Regions from separate parts of the Homo sapiens genome. Here region 2 is linked to region 1. Evidence: fine-mapped expression QTL. A gene starts in region 1. The other region holds a variant in brackets. All regions are shown on one strand. Distances are between the middles of the regions. Region 1 holds the start of SLC18B1 (solute carrier family 18 member B1). Region 2 holds the start of TAAR5 (trace amine associated receptor 5).

Evidence for each region. PIP is the estimated chance that this variant, and not a neighbour inherited with it, causes the effect.
Region 2: its variant is the best candidate, but not a certain one, in a credible set for the expression of SLC18B1 in esophagus muscle (GTEx, PIP 0.52).

The regions. Positions count from the first base shown.
Region 1 is chr6:132,792,802-132,803,118 of GRCh38, reverse strand. SLC18B1 (solute carrier family 18 member B1) reads left to right here and starts at 4,482. Exons shown (of 14, transcript NM_052831.3): 1 at 4,482-4,705; 2 at 5,998-6,137. The coding sequence starts at 4,663. RefSeq lists a silencer at 4,415-4,464 and an enhancer at 5,696-6,196.
Region 2 is chr6:132,585,250-132,595,566 of GRCh38, reverse strand. TAAR5 (trace amine associated receptor 5) reads left to right here and starts at 5,826. Exons shown (of 1, transcript NM_003967.3): 1 at 5,826-6,975. The coding sequence starts at 5,881. The coding sequence ends at 6,894. It also overlaps the pseudogene TAAR4P. The variant A/G (reference allele first, on the strand shown) is at 5,471.

The DNA of each region.
Region 1 (10,317 bases):
TAAAATATTCAAACCACTCTTGAAAAAGAAGAACGTACTTGGACACTTTTTACTGCCTGACTTCAAACACATTGGGTCTTGATATGCAATGGAAGCAAGTGAGTGGAAGAAGCTAGCACCACCTAAAATCTCTTCTGGTGAGAGTGGCAGCATTCTTGAGGAGTGGGGATGATGTTCTAATTACAGTGTCTCATACCTGGCTCCAGTGGTATTGGCAGCATGTGCTGGAGATGTACGTCCAGCAGGGTTGCAGTGCCATGCATACTGGACCGCTTAGGTGGTGTGACTTTAGGCACTTAGCCTCTAAGTGGTATGCATGATCCTCCTGATGATACTATGTGTTACCTAATAATCAATGATGAATTCATTTTCTGCTTAAATTAGCCAACGTTGCTTTGTTTTTTATTAGCAACAGGGAACTCTGACTGATAGAAATGCCAGGAAGAAAAATAGAAAGGTGAAAGGACAAAGGAGGACTAGGGCTGTATTTGGATAAGGGCATAAGAATGAACTTCTTAGCCGGGCGCGGTGGATCACGCCTGTAATCCCAGCACTTTGGGAGGCCGAGGCGGGAGGATCACCTGAGGTTGAGAGTTTGAGACCAGGCTGACCAACATGGAGAAACCCTGTCTCTACTAAAAATACAAAATTAACTGGGCATGGTGGCGCATGCCTGTAGTCCCAGCTACTCAGGAAGCTGAGGCAAGAGAATCGCTTGAACCTAGGAGGTGGAGGTTGTGGTGAGCCAAGATAGCACTATTGTGCTCCAGCCTGGGCAACAAGAGTGAAACTCCATCTCAAAAAAAAAAAAAAAAAAAAAAATGAATGAATTTCTTGGCCAGGTATGGTGGCTTACGGCAGTAATCCCAGCACTTTGGGGAACCAGGGCAGATGGATTGCTTGAGTCCAGGAGATTGACACCAGCCTGGGCAACATGGTGAAACCTCATCTCTATTATTAAATAAATAAATAATAAAAAAGAATGAATTTCTCTGAGGAGGTGGCATTTAAACAAAGACCATATTACTCCATTTTAGTTTGTAAAGAAACAAATATTCCATATGTGTATGAATGTCTAAATGAGCATATCAAACTATGAATAGATAATTGTGGTAGGCTGATAATGGATTCCAAAGATACGTCCACATCCTAATCCCTGGAACCTGTAAATGTTACCTTATATGAAAAAAAGGGTCTGTGCAGATGTGACTAAATTGGAGAACTTGAGATGAAGAGGTCATCCTGGATTATCCAGGTGGGCCCTAAATTCATTCAAAATATCCTTACAAGAGACTGGCAAACGAAGATTACACACAGAAAAGAAGAGGCACAGTGATCACAGAAACAGAGACTACAGTGATGTGGCACAAAATGCCAATAGTCACTAGAAGCTTCAAGGGGCAAGAAACAGACTCTTCCCTAGAGCTTCTAGAGGGAACATGATCCTGCTGACACCTTGATTTTGGCTCAGTGAAACTGATGTTGAACTTCTGGCTTTGAGGACCTTGTTTTAAGCTATCAAATTTGTGTTGATTTGTACAGCAGCCCCAGAAAACTAACACAATAATATATTTGATTATAAAACTGATTATCTGAAGGGAGAATGAGAGGTAGAGATTACAAGAGGAGCGGAGGATAGGGATATGAATAGACTTTATGTAAATTAAAAGTAGATGGACACATAAGAACATAGATTTTTTTGAGAACATAAAGAACAAGATTTGCATTAAACATGCAAGAATTATTGCAAATGGGGAGAGGAATGAGAATGGAGATACAAGGAAATAGATGGCAACAGAAATGAAACATTCAATTGGCAAGATACAGTTGGCAAGATTCAGTTGGCAAAAATTCAGATGGCAAGATACAGTTAGGGATACTTCCTATAACATGGAGGAAAAAAAAAGAAAAAATAATAACTAGCCAGGTGTGGTGGCACAGGCCTATAGTCCCACCTACTCGGGAGGCTGAGGTGGGAGGATCAGTTGAGCTCAGGAATTTGAGGTTGCAGTGAGCCATTATATGTCATGGTAGCTTGGGAAACAGAGTGAGACCCTGTCTAAAAAAAATAAAATAAAATAAAAGAGAGAAGAAAAAGAGAAATAAGTAAAAGGACCAGTTTGGGTGACCCAACATTCACATAAAGTGCAGTCCAGAAAGAAAATAAAAGAGGAAATGTAATCATCAAAGAAATCATTCAAGAAAATTTCCCTCTACAGATTGATGTTAGATTGAAGAGAAAGCATAGAGTTAAATGAGATTGGAGAAGCTGTCAGGGGTTAGATCATAAAGATTTCATAAGGCTACTTTAGGGAAACTTTGCTAGATTGGAACTTTCTTTTCTTTTCTTTTTTTTTTTTTTTTTTTTTTTTTGAGATGGAGTTTCACTCTTGTTGCCCAGGCTGGAGCACAATGGTGCTGTCTTGGCTCACCACAACCTCTGCCTCCTAGGTTCAAGCGATTCTCCTGCCTCAGCTTCCCGAGTAGCTGGGACTACAGGCATGCGCCACCATGCCCAGCTAATTTTGTATTTTTAGTAGAGACAGGGTTTCTCCATGTTGGTCAGCCTGGTCTCAAACTCTCGACCTCAGGTGATTTGCCTGCCTCGGCCTCCCAAAGTGCTAGGATTACAGGCGTGAGCCACAGCACCTGGCTTAGAGTGGAACTTTCTGTTCAGAGTGGTTCTCTAGGTTCTCCTTTACAACTTGCCCACTGGGGAATTTTTTTTTTTTTTTTTTTGAGATGGAGTCTCGCTCGGTTGCCCAGGCTGGAGTGCAATGGCATGATCTCTGCTCACTGCAACCTCCGAGTCCCAGGTTCAAGCGATTCTCCTGCCTCAGTCTCCTGAGTAGCTGGGTGCCATCATGCCCAGCTAATTTTTGTATTTTTGTAGAGACGGGGTTTCACCGTGTTGGTCAGGCAGGTCTCGAACTTCTGACCTCGTGACCCGCCCACCTCGGCCTCCCAAAGTGCTGGGATTACAGGCGTGAGCCACCGCGCCCGGCCCTCACTGGGGAGTTTTTACATAACCTTCAAGAACCAAGGTAACATCACTTCCTCAGGAAGTCATCCAGGACCCATTTGCCAAAGTAAATGGTTCTTCCAATATGTTTGTATACAACCGATTGCATTATAGTAGATTATTAATTAGTGTGAATTTCATCTGCTAGAAGGTGTGCTACTTGAGGGCAGAGTCTGGATGGGGCTCATTCCTCTTTAAATTCATAATGCCTGGCACAAAGTGGTAACTCAGTCTTTTGTTTTGCTTTGGCTTCAAAACAAGAATTTCCCAGTCCTTAAACTTTATTTATTTATTTGAGACAGAGTTTCGCTTTTTCACCCAGGCTGGAATGAGGTGGCACAGTAATTACAAACTTACTATCAGCCATACTGTGTACTGGAACTGACCTTGTACAGTGGATCTGAGGCAGATTCTCAGTCGATAAAGCTACCCTCACACAATTCTTTTGGATCTTGGCTCACTGTAACCTCCGCCTCCCAGGTTCAAACGATTCTCCTGCCTCAGCCTCCCTAGTAGCTGGGATTACAGGTGCCTGCCACCACGCCTGGCTGATTTTTTTGTATTTTTATAGTAGAGACAGGGTTTCACCATGTTGGCCGGGCTGGTCTAGAACTCCTGACCTCAGGTGAGCTGCCCACCTCGGCCTCCCAAACTGCTGGGATTACAGGCATGAGCCACCGTGTCCAGCCAGTCCTCGAGCTTTAACACTTCCCAAATAGTAAATACGGTGAAAATAAGTGAAACCTATTTTTTATGCAAGAAAACTGTGAGTGTGAGAGTAAGGTAGCAGCCATCATGTTCATGTGCTAACTACTAACACACTTTATCGCCAATGCTCACAGCCGCCCTACGAGATAAACATTATAATCTCAGTTGTACAGGTAGAGAAACTGACCTTGTCATCCAAAGTTACACACTGCCAGCAAGTGCCCTGGCTTGAATCCCTGGCACCTGCCTCCAGAGGTCGCACTCCTAGCCACTTCGCCATGCTTCCTCGATATTCATTAGTATTCTTGCAAATATTTTTCGACTCCAGGTGCTTCACATAGGTTAATTCATTTCCGGTTCAATAGTGTCTGGCTTCAGTAATTACGAACACTACCGCATTTACCCACTGTGAAAAATAATTCACTCTTTCAAAGTTCCTGTATAACCTAATTTTCTAATTCACTTTTGTGTCTTTCAGTTGAGGTACTCCCTGCCTTTTCTGTGTCTACATAAGCTTCCTTTCTTTCGTTTCGTAGGAATAAATTGAACTTATTTTAAGATTGAGGGGGGTACAGCTGTATGGAATATAGACTCATCTTTTTTCACTCTCTGTCACAGAATGAAAAAGGACACCATGATATAGCAGCTGAGGTGGTGGATTAAGATAATGAGGCGGGGGGGGGGCGCAAAACAAAAAAAAAAGGAGCCTTGCTCCACCCCTGCCCCGCCCCCGGCCTCCTCCCGGGGACCCAGAGTCCTGGAAGGCTTTGGGGAGCTCCGGGCCGGGCGGATCGCTGCCTGCAGGGAGTCGGGGATGCCAGGTTCCAGCTGAGCAGCGGCCGCCCGCCAGAGTGCCAGTGGCTCCTTGGAGGTCGAGTCCAAGGACGTGGCTTGAAGCCGGGAGCTGGGGCGCCGGAGTCCACGCACCGGGGATGGAGGCGCTGGGTGACCTGGAGGGACCACGCGCACCAGGAGGTGACCATGAATTGCGTGGCCGGGAGCCCGGAGACCAGCGGCGGCTTCCGGCGTGTCTCTTTAGCAACGATTGAATTGCTTATAGCTTGATCTGTTTCCGAGAGATTGGAAAAGGCTGGGGCCTGATCGTGGGGTTCGGGCCAGCGTTTCTTTTCTCTCTGGACGGGGTAAAGTTCCAGGATTGGATATGTGTCACGGTTTCTAATGACTTTCTAACCTATACCTCTGCTTTTTAAGTACTGTGTGTTTAATGCATTCAAATAAGTATGCCATTAGGCAAATGTAAAACGTTACCTTTCAAGTACCCATTGTTGTTGCCTTTCTTTTTAACTTTCATTTCCCTTTCTCATCTACTACAAACATTTTACAAAGATTCGTAAGACTTCCTCATGTTGCACTGATTTTTTTTTTCCTTCTGGACTGCAATGGCAACCTCTGACAAATAGAGCAAAGCAAATGTATTTCTCTTAAGTTTTTCCTAAAAACAATTTAATTTATAAATGGCTGATGGATTTGCTTGGATATTTGGAACTCAGTAATTGATTTCGTGTTTTTAAATGACAATTTAGCCCTGGAAATAAGTGTTAAATTAACTGATGTAAAAGACCAGTAATTAGGGTAAAAAAAAAGTATTTATTTATGAATTTGTGGGACTTGTCTATCCAGAAGCATACCGCTGTAAATATTAATTCACCAGCTGAATGATTTAGCTTGTTTTCTCCTACTTACACTTCATTTGACTTCAATACTGCCTTAGAAATCTTTGTTTTTTGTTTTTGTTTTTGTTTTTGTTTGTTTGTTTTGTTTTGCTTTTTTGAGACGGAGTCTCTCTCTGTAGCCCAGGCTGGAGTGCAGTGGTGCGATCTTGGCTCACTGCAAGCTCCGCCTCCCGGGTTCACGCCATTCTCCTGCCTCAGCCTCCCGAGTAGCTGGGATACAGGGGCCCGCCACCACGCCCGGCTAATTTTTTGTATTTTTAGTAGAGACGGGGTTTCACCGTGTTAGCCAGGATGGTCTCGATCTCCTGACCTCGTGATCCGCCTGCCTCGGCCTCCCAAAGTTCTGGGATTACAGGCGTGAGCCACCGTGCCCAGCCGAAAGCAGTACGTTTTCAAAACGGCAGTAATGTACAAGGATTGTGTTCCATTTGATCAAATGTGCTATATTCAAAATAGCCCTAAGCTTAGCAAATGATATCTTCAGAGTGCAACATATGTGCACAGAAATCACATTTGTGTACTTTAATCAGTAGTCTCAATTATATGCCTAATTGCTGCATGTTTGCATTCAAGGTGATGATCCTGCAGGAAGTGCAGGAGAGACCCCCGGGTGGCTTTCGAGAGAACAGGTTTTTGTACTGATATCGGCAGCTTCGGTGAACTTAGGTTCCATGATGTGCTATTCTATACTTGGACCGTTTTTCCCCAAAGAGGTAAGACATTTTTAAATCCTTAGGACCTCTGTTTTTTTGTTTGTTTGTTTTTTAAAAGCCTTTTGAATTATTTTATTTTATAGTATATAAAATGTAAAAATCTGCATATAGGACAGATGGTGTATAGAACTCCAGCCAATAGAATACTTCTTATAGAATGCCTGATACCAGGAAAAAAAATCCAGTCAAAAAGAACATCTTCTTGGGAGGTAATTCACCTAAAAGTAGTTGATCTTCTGAGAATTACTTTTCTTACCATGTAGTCTGATTAATCTTTATTTGGTTTCTGCAACTGAAACAAAGGAGTGCACTGAATAACTGAGATTCAAATGTTACTGCAATAGGTCTGTGTTAAGACAGTAACTATTTTCTCGAGGTTTTATTCACATTTTAGAATTAGGACGTTTTGATTCCCGACCCCCCTTCCTTTTTTTTTTTTTTTTTTTTTTCCTTTCGAGACAGGGTTTCGCTCTTGTTGCCCAGGCTGGAGTGCAATGTTGTGATCTTGGCTCACTGCAACCTCTGCCTCCCGGGTTCAATTGATTCTCCTGCCTCAGCCTCCCGAGTAGCTGGGATTACAGGCGCCTACCACCACGTCCGGGTAATTTTTTTTTTTTTTTTTTTTTTGAGATGGAGTCTCGCACTCTCGCCCAGGCTGGAGTGCAGTGGCGCGATCTCGGCTCACTGCAAGCTCCGCCTCCTGAGTTCACGCCATTCTCCTGCCTCAGCCTCCCAAGTAGCTGGGACTACAGGTACCCGCCACTACGCCCAGCTAATTTTTTTTTTTGTATTGTTTTAGTAGAGACGGGGTTTCACCGTGTTAGCCAGGATGGTCTCCATCTCCTGACCTCATGATCTGCCCGCCTCCGCCTCCCGAAGTGCTGGGATTACAGGCGTGAGTCACCGTGCCCGGCCGAATTTTTGTATTTTTAGTAGAGACAGGTTTTTGCCATGTTGGGCAGTCTGGCTTCGATCTCCTGACCTCAGGTGATCTGCTTACCTTGGCCTCCCAAAGTGCTGGGATAACAGGCGTGAGCCACCACGCCCAGCCCCGGCCCCGCTCCATATTCCCTCTTTTGACTTTAATTTCTTATGGACTCTAGCGCCAATGTTTATGCAAGGGAGGAATTCTGATTAATAGGGCCTATTCCTTCTAGGCATAGCCTTTTATATGGTGTTAAGATTTATAGCTAATGACACAGATTCAAAGATAATAATCCCTAGAAAGTCCAACTGGATTCTAGACGTCAATAGGATATAGTATGAAATGAATATGACTGGCTTGGAGTGTAGACAACATATCCATGTGTTTTATTTTGTGCTTTTTGCCAAATCCTTGGCTCACAGTGCAGTGGAAGCTTGTTAGTCCTCCAACTGCCTTTTAAACATGTAGTCCTTCGTTCTGTGTGTTACAAAAGAAGATAAAGTGGCTTCTCTGCTAAAGGAACAATATTGCCATGTACCCATACAGTGCTCTCTGGCTTCTAGTACACATTACCCCTTATTTATCCATTTAATCCCCGCAACAACCTCATACAGAATCTTGAGAATCTCAGCATGTTGCAAATGAAGAAACGGTCTCAGAAGTTGTGACTTGCCCAATTCAGTTCTATTAACTAGAGGTTTAATGAGTCCCTTCTCTAGAGCAGGCTAAGCATGGGATGTGTTAGGGTAGTATAAAAAAATCAGGGAAATGGCTTTCTCTTGTCTGCCCTTTGGGAGTGAAAAAATATGGGAAAAAAAAGGTTCCAATAATTTGGATATCCCTTAAGAAAAGGATGTCCAGAATGTTATAAGACTGTTTTTTTTTTTCTTTTTTTAAATCATTTTCTTCTGGCTTCCCTCTATCCATACTAATGTTATGAGAGCCTAGAAAGAAGAATGGTTAATTCTGCCATACATGGAGTGTGGATAGCAGAAGAAAGGGCGTTACTGAAAGGAACTTTCAGGCTAAATCTAAGTTGGGGCTTTTTTTTTGAGACAGGGTTTCACTCTGTCATCGAGGCTGAAAGTACAGTGGCATGATCAGAGTTCACTGCTGCCTCAACTTCCCAGGCTCAAGAGATCCTTTCGCCTCAGCCCCCTGAGGAGCTGGGGCACAGGCATGTGCCACCACGCCTAGCTATTTTTTTCTATTTTTAGTAGAGATGGGGTTTCACCATGTTGCCCAGGCTGATGTTGAGCTCCTGAGCTCAAGCAATCCGTCCACCATGTTGGCCAGGCCTCTCAAATGCTGGGATTACAGGTGTGAGCCACCGCACCTGGCCTAAGGTGGGCCCTAAGAAGTGTTAATTCTTATGGTGAACAACAGAGATGGAGGTGTTCTAGGTATAGTCACAGGAAGAGCAGAGTGAATGGCATGTTCCTGGGGAACAACAGACAGCTTCTTGATGTGGCTTGAGCCTGGGGTGAAGTGAGGTCTAATAGGAGACAGTGGATCTGAGGAGGCAGGCCTAAGATAGAAAGGAAGGGCACTTGTCAAGGACTTAGTCAGTGGGCAGTCATCAGAGGTGTTTGAGCAAGAAAGAGCAGTCTGGCCAGACTTGGGATTTTTAAATAATAATAATAACAATAATAATGCCAGGCATGGTGGCTCACGCCTGTAATCCCAGCACTTTGGGAGGCTGAGGTGGGAGGATCACCTGAGGTCAGGAGTTTGAGACCAGCCTGGCCAACATGGTGAAACCCTGTCTGTACTAAAAATACAAAAATTAGCCAGGCATGGTGGCACGTGACTGTAGTCCCAGCTACTCAGGAGGCTGAGACAGGAGAATTGCTTGAACCCAGGAGGTGGAGGTTGCAGTGAGCCGAGATCGCCCCACTGCACTCTAGCCTGGGCAACAGAGTGAGACTCCATCTCAAAAAAAAAAAAAATTAAAAAAAAAATAATAAGAGCCTGTGGAATTGAGATGGAGAAGAATTGGAGTGAGTGAATCAACCAGTGAGAAGGGCATTTCCTAGCTCAGCTGGAACTCAGTGAGTGCAACTAATGTTAGTTTCCTCTAAGTGAATAGGGACAAAGGAAAACCATGCTGTGGGTGTGTGCTTTTTAAGTTTTTGATTGAGTTTTGTGCTTATAGGAAATGATGACCAAAGAAAAAAGTCAAGCTTTTAAAGAATTAAAGTTCATTTTATTCAGAAGTCTTACCGAGGACTATAGGCTGAGTATTTCAGTTCACAGTTCATGTACAGGTAGTAGAGACTCAGTACATGCACGGTCACATCAAAGTTTGGGTGTAAGAGTACATCTGGTTATAGATTATGAATGTACCTTTGGTAATAGTTTATAAACGCATAATCACAACCCTGTTAGATGTTATCTTATGTGTAGGAAAAGGCAAAGCTGGGGCATTTATCATTTAAGGAATGTAATAGCTCAGGCAAGAGATGTGGGGGACCATGTGCTCTATCCTGCTCTGTCTTCAACTCATCCCTCCCAAGAGTTGCATGTTGTCACAGAGTCAGGGGTTTTATGACATTATGCTGGCAAGCAGAAGTGAGCAAAATGTGACTTCTTACATTTGCTACTTTTGTCTCGCCTCGCAGAGGGAAGGCTGAAAGAAAGGAGATAGAGGCAGGAGAGAGAACATTCTAACTTTAAAAGCTGTAAATATGAAGAGAAGGCTTTGATTTTTCATTTCTGATTAAAATCTTGTGGTCAACAAATGCATTGGTGAAGCCTCACCCTTCCTCCTGCATGTTCTGTCATTTTTCTTATTAGCTAAGCTAACTGGGCAAAGGAAAAACAGTGCCTTTCTTAAATTATGGTGTGGGATTCCTACTTCTATTCATCATTTTTCTTGCCACACTCATCTTTTGTCAGAGGACCAGAAATTGCTTATTTATTTATTTATTTATTGAGACAGAGCCTCGTTCCATCATGCCCAGGCTGGAGTGCTGCGGCATCGTCTCAGCTTACTGCAACCTCCGCCTCCTGAGTTCAAACAATTCTCCCGCCTCAGTCTCCCAAGTAGCTGGGATTACAGGCGCGCATCACCACACCCAGCTAATTTTTTTGTATTTTTAGTAGAGACGGGGTTTCACCATATTGGCCAGGCTGGTCTCGAACTCCTGACCTCAGGTGATCCACTCGCCTTGGCCTCCTAAATTGCTGGAATTACAGGAGTGAGCCACTGTGCCCGGCCTAGAAATTGCTTTTAATAGCTGTTTTTGCTTTCCT
Region 2 (10,317 bases), 210 kb after region 1:
GCTTAGTTTGGCCTCTGAAAAAAGCTGTGCTGCTGGTGATTTGTATTGTTGTACTGTGTCTTTCTCACACAGAACTGAGAGGAACACAGCACTTTTGAACAAGATTCATAGTACCCATGAGACAAAGATGATGAATTTGCCTGACCCTCAGAACCCCCCAACAGTACAATTTTGCTTTAGTTCAGTTAACAATTCATGCCCTAGAAATGTGAGGCCGGTGCTGAGTGTCTGGGCCATGTACCTGGTCATGATCGGGTCTATAGTGATGACAATGCTGGGCAACATGATCGTAATGATTTCCATCGCTCACTTCAAGCAGCTCCACTCCCCGACCAACTTCTTGATCCTCTCCATGGCCATCACTGACTTTTTGCTGAGCTGTGTGGTCATGCCCTTCAGTGTGATCACATCCATCGAGTCCTGCTGGTATTTTGGAGACCTCTTTTGCAAAGTCCACAGCTGCTGTGACATCATACTCTGCACCACCTCCATTTTTCACCTCTGCTTCATCTCAGTTGACCGTTACGATGCTGTTTGAGACCCATTGCAATATGTCACCAGAATTACCATCCCTGTCATAGAACTCTTTCTACTCATCAGTTGGTCCATTCCCATCCTTTTTGCCTTTGGCCTGGTATTCTCAAAACTAAACATAATTGGTGCAGAAGAGTTTGTTGCAGCCATTGATTGCACAGGTTTGTGTGTGTTAATATTTAATAAGCTCTGGGGGGGTACTGGCCTCCTTTATAGCTTTCTTTCTCCCAGGGACAACCACGGTGGGAATTTACATACATATTTTTACAGTAGCCAGGAAGCATGCCATGCAAATTGGCACAGGTTCTAGGACTAAACAGGCTGGGTCAGAAAGCAAAAAAAAAGGCATCCTCTAAAACAGAAAGCAAGGCCACCAGGACCTTAGGCATAGTCATGGGAGTGTTTGTGTTGTGCTGGCTGCCCTTCTTTGTCTTGACGATCACAGATCCTTTCATTAATTTTACAACCCTTGAAGATCTGTACAATGTCTTCCTCTGGCTAGGCTATTTCAACTCTGCTTTCAATCCCATTTTATATGGCATGCTTTATCCTTGGTTTCGCAAGGCATTGAGGATGATTGTCACAGGCATGATCTTCCACCCTGACTCTTCCACCCTAAGCCTGTTTTCTGCCCATGCTTAGGCTGTGTTCATCATTCAATAGGACTCTTTTCTGGTGGGGAATCTTGGATGCCCTTTCTCCACACAAGTAGGGGCATGAATTGACCAGATAAGGAGATCCTTCCAGTTGGCGTAGTGAACATCTAGGTAGGAGTTATAGATGAGCCTTCCAGGTATACTAAAGCTACCAAAGCGGTCCATTTCTGGGCTTTGGGGAAAGACAACTCCAATAAAAAGAATCTCTCCCAAGTCTTACTGACTCCTGAGATTCCAAATTAGGGATCTAGAATTTTAGTCTTTTGGCTTAAATCATATAGAGATTTTCTTACTTTAACTTGAAAACATCAGATGCAAAAGCAAAGTTGGTTTCCACAATCATTGACAGCCATGTATATCTGAGTTTATCTAAATCTTTCTTGAGATTGTTGTTGCTTGTTAGGGAAGTGGGAGAGAGCCTGGGCATACAGGAAGTCTGAGTTATGGAGCATGCTAGTGATGCGGAAAGGGAGAAAGACACAGACAGTTGTAGTTACTTCCAATTGTAATGATTTTGGCTGAAACCCCTTTTCAGAAAGAACTGATGTGAGATTTGCAATATTTGATAAAATTGGACTGTCTTACTAAATGAGAAAAATGAATAAAGAGTTTGGGAAAATATGCTTTCTTTCTCCCAATATACACTTTAGATCCATGTATGTATGCAGCCTGTGTGTACACATAGTGGGGATGCGTCCATGTCTTTCATGTGTGTACATATATTCATTATCCTCCCAGACTGAACTTTACAAGGGTGTCCACAAACATTAGCTCAATAGTTTTTCAAAACAGCTCCAAATGCTCTTCCTAGGCTAGGCCAAGGAGAGTGAAGCAGCCATTTTCATTCCTAAACCAAATCTCCTCTTCCCAGGACTCATCTAAGCTGAGCAGAGTAACCATTATCTCAGGGGGAATGGTAATTTCCATGATACTTGCTGTCTGTATTAAAAGTCACTCGGTTCAACGAACATTTATTGAGCACCTACTATGTGCCAAGTGTTGCTCTGATTGTGGTTCAGAGATAAATAAAACTCAAACCCTGGCCTCAAGGGAATTTTGACTTCATAGGAGGGACCATAGCCACTCAGTTACACTACAGGGTAATATGTGTTGTGACAGAGCCAGGCACAAGAGGCCATGAGAGCATGGCAGAGGAAAATTTAGCCTGACATGGGGTTGTGGAGAGACTGCCTGCATTTTTGACCAAAGACTGTAGCATCAGGTTTTGTAAGGGAACCAGAGCCTCTATTAGAGTCAAGGGAAAGCTGGGGAAGTGGAGTTAGAGCATCAGAGAAGGGGTCACTAAGCCAACTTCCTGAAGATCGGCATGAGGAAGCAAGTTTGAGCAAGTACTTTCACCCACTGAAGTGAAATTGCAAAGACAGGGCATATGGCAAAGTCTGTGGTAAGCTGTTGCCCCTGGGTAGCTACTGTTCTGTGGTCCTTACCCAGGAATTCAGTGGTAGATCTGGGACCACTGTTGCTTAGCAATGTCAGCAGAGAGGAAGAAGAGCCGGGTGCAGAGTAGAGCTAGGCCAAGTGTAACTTATAAATAAGAACTTATAAATAAGAAGTTAACTGGCTTATGGTTCTGCAGGCTGTACAGGAAGAATGGCTGGGGAGGCCTCAGGGAATTTACAATTATGGCAGAAGGCAAAGGGAAAGCAGGCACATCTTACATGGCTGAAGCAGGAGGAAGAGGCAGAAGGGAGGTGCTACACACTTGTAAACAACTAGATCTCATGATAACTCATTCACTATCAAAAGAACAGCACCAAAGGGGAAATCTACCCCCATGATCCAAGCACCTCCCACCAGGCCCCACCTCCAACACTGAGGATTACAATTTGACATGAGATTTACACGGGGACACAGACCCAAATCATATCAGACAGATTTTGAGGAATCAAGAATTATTCTGTCCTATGTGCTCTCAAAGGCAGGCAAAGACCGTCCATAGACAACAGGCTATAGAAAGAGAATCTCTGAACCTGAGTGAAGTCTGCCAGTTTGAGCTTGTACTAAGAACACTTCCATCTGGCTTCATAATTTCAGGTTATCATAATTAGCACAGCCTCATTATAATCGATTTTGTTAAAGTTGGCGGTAATTTGAAAACAAATTTGGTTTCTAGTAAGTAAAGTGCAGAGGAGGCTACACATGATGCAGCGGGGAGATTTAAAAGAAATAAAAATGTTCTTTTATTCAAGACCTTTAGCAGCTTGCTGCAACATTAATGAATCCCTAAGGTAAGCAGGAAACCTTAGTAGATCCAGAATCCAATTACTTTTGCCTGTGATTGTTATGTAATGGAATGTATTTCTAAAAGTCAGTGGAAGAAGGGATAAGAGCCCTAACTTGGGAAGGTTAACAGTTATCTGCACTAGATATCCACTCGAACTCTTGTCTGCCCAACTCAACTTTCTACATGCCAGAGACTGCACTTTATGAATTTTAACTCATTAATATTCACAAGATTGTGACACAGATCATGTATTATATTCAATTAATAGATGAGAAAACTGGACACAGTGGTGTTAAGTAATCTGAGACATAGAGATCATACAATTGTGTTACATATTACATTTTAGTAGGTCTGATGTAATCTATCCCAGAACAGAAAACCTTTCCCTGTTTCTTCTTCAGCCTTATTCCAGCTACAGGACATTTGTTTGTATTTTTCACAAGTTCTTGGTCAAATTAAATATAAAGCCATAGGACTCCTTGGCCAATTATATGTGGATTATGACTTTTAAGCTAAAGGGGTTTCAAGGTACCTAGTAATGCAATATCCTTCCTTGTGTCTGATTAAGTTCTGGAGCCAGATATGTATTTCCACACATATGAAGCTGGCATAAGGCAAGATTCCAGCGGTAGCCAGGCTATAGGGAGCTTTGCCTTGGGAAACACTGGGTTTAGCCATGGATTTGTAGAGAAAGGAGAGGTGCATACCAACCTCCTTCCTTCTTTTTGACCTGCCCCACCTCCTCTTCCAGGCCCCTCTGGCAGATGTAATTTGGTGTCACCTCTAGAATTCTGTCATTTTTACAACTTTAGTTTGACTGATACTGTGAAATGGTTTCTCTGTAACCATAAAGAGGCATACCAGCTTCTAAGATATCAAGAGGCAGAGAGCAGAATACGATTCAACATGTTATTTACCTTGATAATATCCCTGTGAAATCAAGTTACACAGGTATAATTGTACCTACTCTTACCAATGGGGAAGCAGAGAGAGAGGTTAGGTATGGCATAAGAAAGGATGAAACAGGAATTTAACTATTCTTCCTCCAGGTGAACTGCTTCATCTACCATGCTTTCTTTCACCATCACAAAATATAGTGCTCAAAAAACACATAATGATGAATCCTGTGTGGAAGTCACAAACCACCCCTTCATGAACCAAAAAACCCATGATCAATTATTCTCAACTATTTCTCATGTTGAGAGAAATATACACAAATAATACTAAAGCAGAAGAAAAATAAGAAACTCACTAAAAATGAAATTAGAAAATATATAGCAGCCATTAGCAGGCAAGAATACCTTCAAAACATCCCAGAACTGAAAAATTAAAAAAGAATATATACATCCACCGTCTTTAAATTTTATCTCTAATTAATTGTCAGGGTAAGTGATTCTGTATTGAGGAGGAACCTTAAACAACTGAGACTTGCAAATAGTGCAAACTAGGTCCCATGGTGCCTCTTCACAGCTTATTTGTATCATAGCACATGGAGGAGTAGTTTCTATTGAGAGTATAAAATCGTTAACTAATTGCACACCTGTCATTGTGGCCAACAGAAGAGTACTCTGACATTCCCTGTGTCCACCTGCTCCAAGAAACATTTTTTCCCAGGAAGGGATTCTGATTCCTACCTGTGTAAGTAACTTAGAAACTCTGAATTCAATATATTAGGACTTGGTTAATAATTCACAGACTTACATTAAGATGTTAAATAGATAAAATCATTTTGCCTATCAAATAGTTATACCAAGATGTGTAAACACTTTGTGTTATCATCATAAAATGTGCAGCATTTAAAGCTAAAATAGAGCAATTTTCTACTCTTTTAATTATTAATATTTGCATGCTGAATTCTTCTCTTGGGAAGAGTTGGCATGTAGCTAAAAATCTTAATCTGCTAACTTTATTGTCAATGTATGTAATTCTTAAAGAGAGAAGCTAGAAGTTACACTTTTTCCAAGGAATAATTTATTAACAAGAATTAATTGGTCACTTGGTTCAGATCTTTGCTTTAAATTTCACTTTACATTTG[A/G]CAAAAAATACCTTATCAAAACGTAAGAGACATTCTCTATTATTTAATACTACCTATGGATATAATCAAGCTTTCTTTGAGGAAACATTCAGCTTACATCCTTCTTTTCTTTCTTTAAGAATACTACCTACACTAGTTTTAAAGTGCCTAGTCATATAAACTAGAGCTAGCAGAAGTAACTCTCATGAAACCTTGAATACTATGCTGCATTTGATTTTCAGGGCACATTTGATTCAGTACCCAGGGGCACTGTACTATGTTCCAAACTGTACTTTAGTTTCTTCCTCTTCGTTTCACTCTGTGATTATTTAGCAGACATATTTTTTTTTTTTTTTTTTTTTTTTTTTTTTTTTTGCCCTCCAGTGGAGAAGGTGGCCAGTTCTCAGACAGAGGAAGAGTAGAAATCATAAATGAGAGCTGTCTTCATCCAAGGTGCTGAAGAGCACCCTGCGGCATTCTGCTACCAGGTGAATGGGTCTTGCCCCAGGACAGTACATACTCTGGGCATCCAGTTGGTCATCTACCTGGCCTGTGCAGCAGGCATGCTGATTATCGTGCTAGGGAATGTATTTGTGGCATTTGCTGTGTCCTACTTCAAAGCGCTTCACACGCCCACCAACTTCCTGCTGCTCTCCCTGGCCCTGGCTGACATGTTTCTGGGTCTGCTGGTGCTGCCCCTCAGCACCATTCGCTCAGTGGAGAGCTGCTGGTTCTTCGGGGACTTCCTCTGCCGCCTGCACACCTACCTGGACACCCTCTTCTGCCTCACCTCCATCTTCCATCTCTGTTTCATTTCCATTGACCGCCACTGTGCCATCTGTGACCCCCTGCTCTATCCCTCCAAGTTCACAGTGAGGGTGGCTCTCAGGTACATCCTGGCAGGATGGGGGGTGCCCGCAGCATACACTTCGTTATTCCTCTACACAGATGTGGTAGAGACAAGGCTCAGCCAGTGGCTGGAAGAGATGCCTTGTGTGGGCAGTTGCCAGCTGCTGCTCAATAAATTTTGGGGCTGGTTAAACTTCCCTTTGTTCTTTGTCCCCTGCCTCATTATGATCAGCTTGTATGTGAAGATCTTTGTGGTTGCTACCAGACAGGCTCAGCAGATTACCACATTGAGCAAAAGCCTGGCTGGGGCTGCCAAGCATGAGAGAAAAGCTGCCAAGACCCTGGGCATTGCTGTGGGCATATACCTCTTGTGCTGGCTGCCCTTCACCATAGACACGATGGTCGACAGCCTCCTTCACTTTATCACACCCCCACTGGTCTTTGACATCTTTATCTGGTTTGCTTACTTCAACTCAGCCTGCAACCCCATCATCTATGTCTTTTCCTACCAGTGGTTTCGGAAGGCACTGAAACTCACACTGAGCCAGAAGGTCTTCTCACCGCAGACACGCACTGTTGATTTGTACCAAGAATGATTCCTTCTACTAAATGCAGGCAAGGAGTAGGACCTCACAGGAAAGATAAGTGGCACTGTGACCGTGGGCTGTGTGGTGTTGAGTTTGTGGGCATGCTTCCAGGACAGCATGGGTTAAGTAGAAGAGAAAGACAAGCTCCTTAACTTGGAAAGGGATAAAGCACTCCCCACATTCAATGTTTTATATATATGTATGTATATACACGTATATATATATATACGTATATATATATTTATTATACTTTAAGTTCTAGGGTACATGTGCACAACGTGCAGGTTTGTTACATACGTATGCATGTGCCATGTTGGTGCACTGCACCCATTAACGTCATTTACATTAGGTATATCTCCTAATGCTATCCCTCCCCCCTCCCCCCACCCCACAACAGGCCGCGGTGTGTGATGTTCCCCTTCCTGTGTCCAAGTGTTCTCATTGTTCAATTCCCACCTATGAGTAAGAACATGCGGTGTTTCGTTTTTTGTCCTTGCGATAGTTTGCTGAGAATGATGGTTTCCAGCTTCATCCATGTCCCTACAAAGGACATGATCTCATCCTTTTTTATGGCTGCATAGTATTCCATGGTGTATATGTGCCACATTTTCTTAATCCAGTCTGTCATTGTTGGACATTTGGGTTGGTTCCAAGTCTTTGCTCTTGTGAATAGTGCTGCAATAAACATACGTGTGCATGTGTCTTTGTAGCAGCATGATTTATATTCCTTTGGGTATATACCCAGTAATGGGATGGCTGAGTCAAATGGTATTTCTAGTTCTAGATCCCTGAGGAATCGCCACACTGACTTCCACAATGGTTGAACTAGTTTACAGTCCCACCAACAGTGTAAAAGTGTTATTTTTTATAGTACATTGGAGGAAAAGGAGAGCAAGAAATCATCTTAATATCCACTGGATAAGCCAGAACACTGTGCACATATTTGGTTCCTCATTCATTGCTTCCTTGAAACAACTAGGATGCAACAACGGAAGGAACAGAGCCCTGAGGTCTGGCTTTCTGAGTTCTCACACTGGTTCTGCCACACAGAGCAGCCAAGAGAGATTTCAGCAATCTTTGAATCCTCCCTCCTCCCACCACAGATGGGAGTTTCCTCATCTAAAATAAGGTGTTTGTAATATTTCCTTTCTACTGTGTTCTTAAGTGAAATATGGCATAATCTAACTTCAGGAAACCTAGTTTGAATCATAATTTCGCTTCATATTTCATAATCATAATCAATTGTTTAGAATGTCTCTTCCTCAAAATGTTCATTTTAGAAACCTCGTCTCCTAAAAACCCAAGCACTAAGCAGATTTGTCATCCAGGTTTGTCCATTGTGATAATCACTGAGTAAAAGCATCATATTCTTGAAGGAATGTTTTTTCTTATCTTTTTGAATAATTTAAACCTGAACATAGTTGGAATATTTTGTTAAGTGATAATTATCCACATCTTTCCGTTTTATTATTTCTTTCTTTAAATTTTTCTCACACAAGTTAGACCGGCTATCTTTCCAGGAACACCAGTACATGTTTTTGTTTTTGTTTTTGCTTTTTATAAAAACAAGTCCCCATGCCACGTGCTTGCTCGGAATTGAACCAAATGTTTCTCAGCAGCAATTACTAGTAAGGGCACTAGCACCTTTATGTACAGCCTGCCTGTCTTCTCCTGAATATTTTCCTAAAGCCTCTAATCACCATTCCTTTATATTTATTACTGAGATTTTTTCAAATTAATAATTGCTTACTTGAAAAACTTCTTTATAAATTAGTTCAAAGCCTCAAAGCCTCTCCACTACAGGTGCACAGATAGCTGTAGCTATAGATGCAGATACAGGTGTATCAATCTCAATAGGTAAACTTAGACAATGAAGGAGGGAATGTGTTTCAAGAGCAATTCATATGCCAATAGTCAGATAAGTAGACGTTAAACAAATACTTAAAACAATCATTCACATGTCAATAATAATCACTAAAGGAGTGGCCGGGCGCGGTGGCTCACGCCTTTAATCCCAGCACTTTGGGAGGCCAAGGCGGACGGATCACCTGAGGTCAGGAGTTCAAGACCAGCCTGATCAACATGGAGAAACCCTGTCTCTACTAAAAATACAAAATTTGCTGGGCGTGGTGGCACATGCTTGTAATCCCAGCTACTCGGGAGGCTGAGGCAGGAGAACCGCTTGAACCCGGGAGGCAGAGGTTGTGGTGAGCCAAGATTGTGCCATTGCACTCCAGCCTGGGCAAAAAGAGTGAAACTCTGTCTCAAAGTGATAATAATAATAATAATGGTAATAATAATAATAATAATTGAAGGAGTAAATATCTTATTTTGTCAATGAAGTTAGCTAAAATGGGTTTATTCTGTTTATTTATATATAGATATATGGAGAGAGAGAGAAGTGCTATTAACCCCAAACTTTCCTCCTTATTTAAAAATAATTGTTGTAAAAATATTTTTCCACGTATTCTTTAGTGCTTCATTTTTCTTTGGAATTAATTATAGTTTATTTTTTGTTAACTCTTAGGCATTATTAAATAATTAAATTACAGATGAATTATAAACTAAAACTTATCCTAGTATATATAGTTTTGAGTTATTAAGAAGCTAGAAATACTATGCCTTTTGTATAACAATAAATATAATTTGCAACCTATAAGTGAGTCATTACTTTAAAAAGCATATTTTTCTCTTGCCTTTCTAGAAATAAGCCACCCCATTCCCAATCAACTGAGCATAGCAGTCTCCATCTTGGAAGTAAAAGATCCGGCTGCTTCACAAGGTGGAGCTCTGAACTAGTCACTTCAACAGAAGCAAGAAATGATTCTGCTTCTTGCACATATTATTGTTTCCTGTTAGGTGGAGAAGGCTGCCTTAGCCAGATAGGCCCTCAATGAAGAGAAGGGAAGGAGCTAACAGTTACTGAGAACCTATGATGTTCTGCATCTCACTTAATGCCTATAAACCTGTGAGGTGGATATTATTACCCTTACAGGGCACACAGATGAGGCACGCAAAGATCTGGTAATTTACCTTGGCATCCTTACTTGAAAATTCTTAATCTATCTTCTTACTTGAAAGCTGTTAACCTATCTACTATTTCTCTGAAATATTAGGGAAATCTGGACAGCTAATAAATCTGTGAATAGGACTAACACTGAAAACCAGATAGGAGACTCCAGTTTCCAGTGAATCACAGAAACACAAGGACATGTGTGTCATGATACAATGTTTGCATCACCAAAGAACCAGGGGAGAATGAGAAAAAGAATCGCACCTTCAGTGGACACCACAAACGGAAGCATGAGCTGATGGTTGGAGAGGGGAGGCACCCGACCCCAGGATTTGAAGCCCAGCTCTTTCATCCTCTTCGTTAGGAGAACAGAATGTAAGAAGCAAATCTGTTGCCCCCAGAAAATTGGGTTAGGCCCT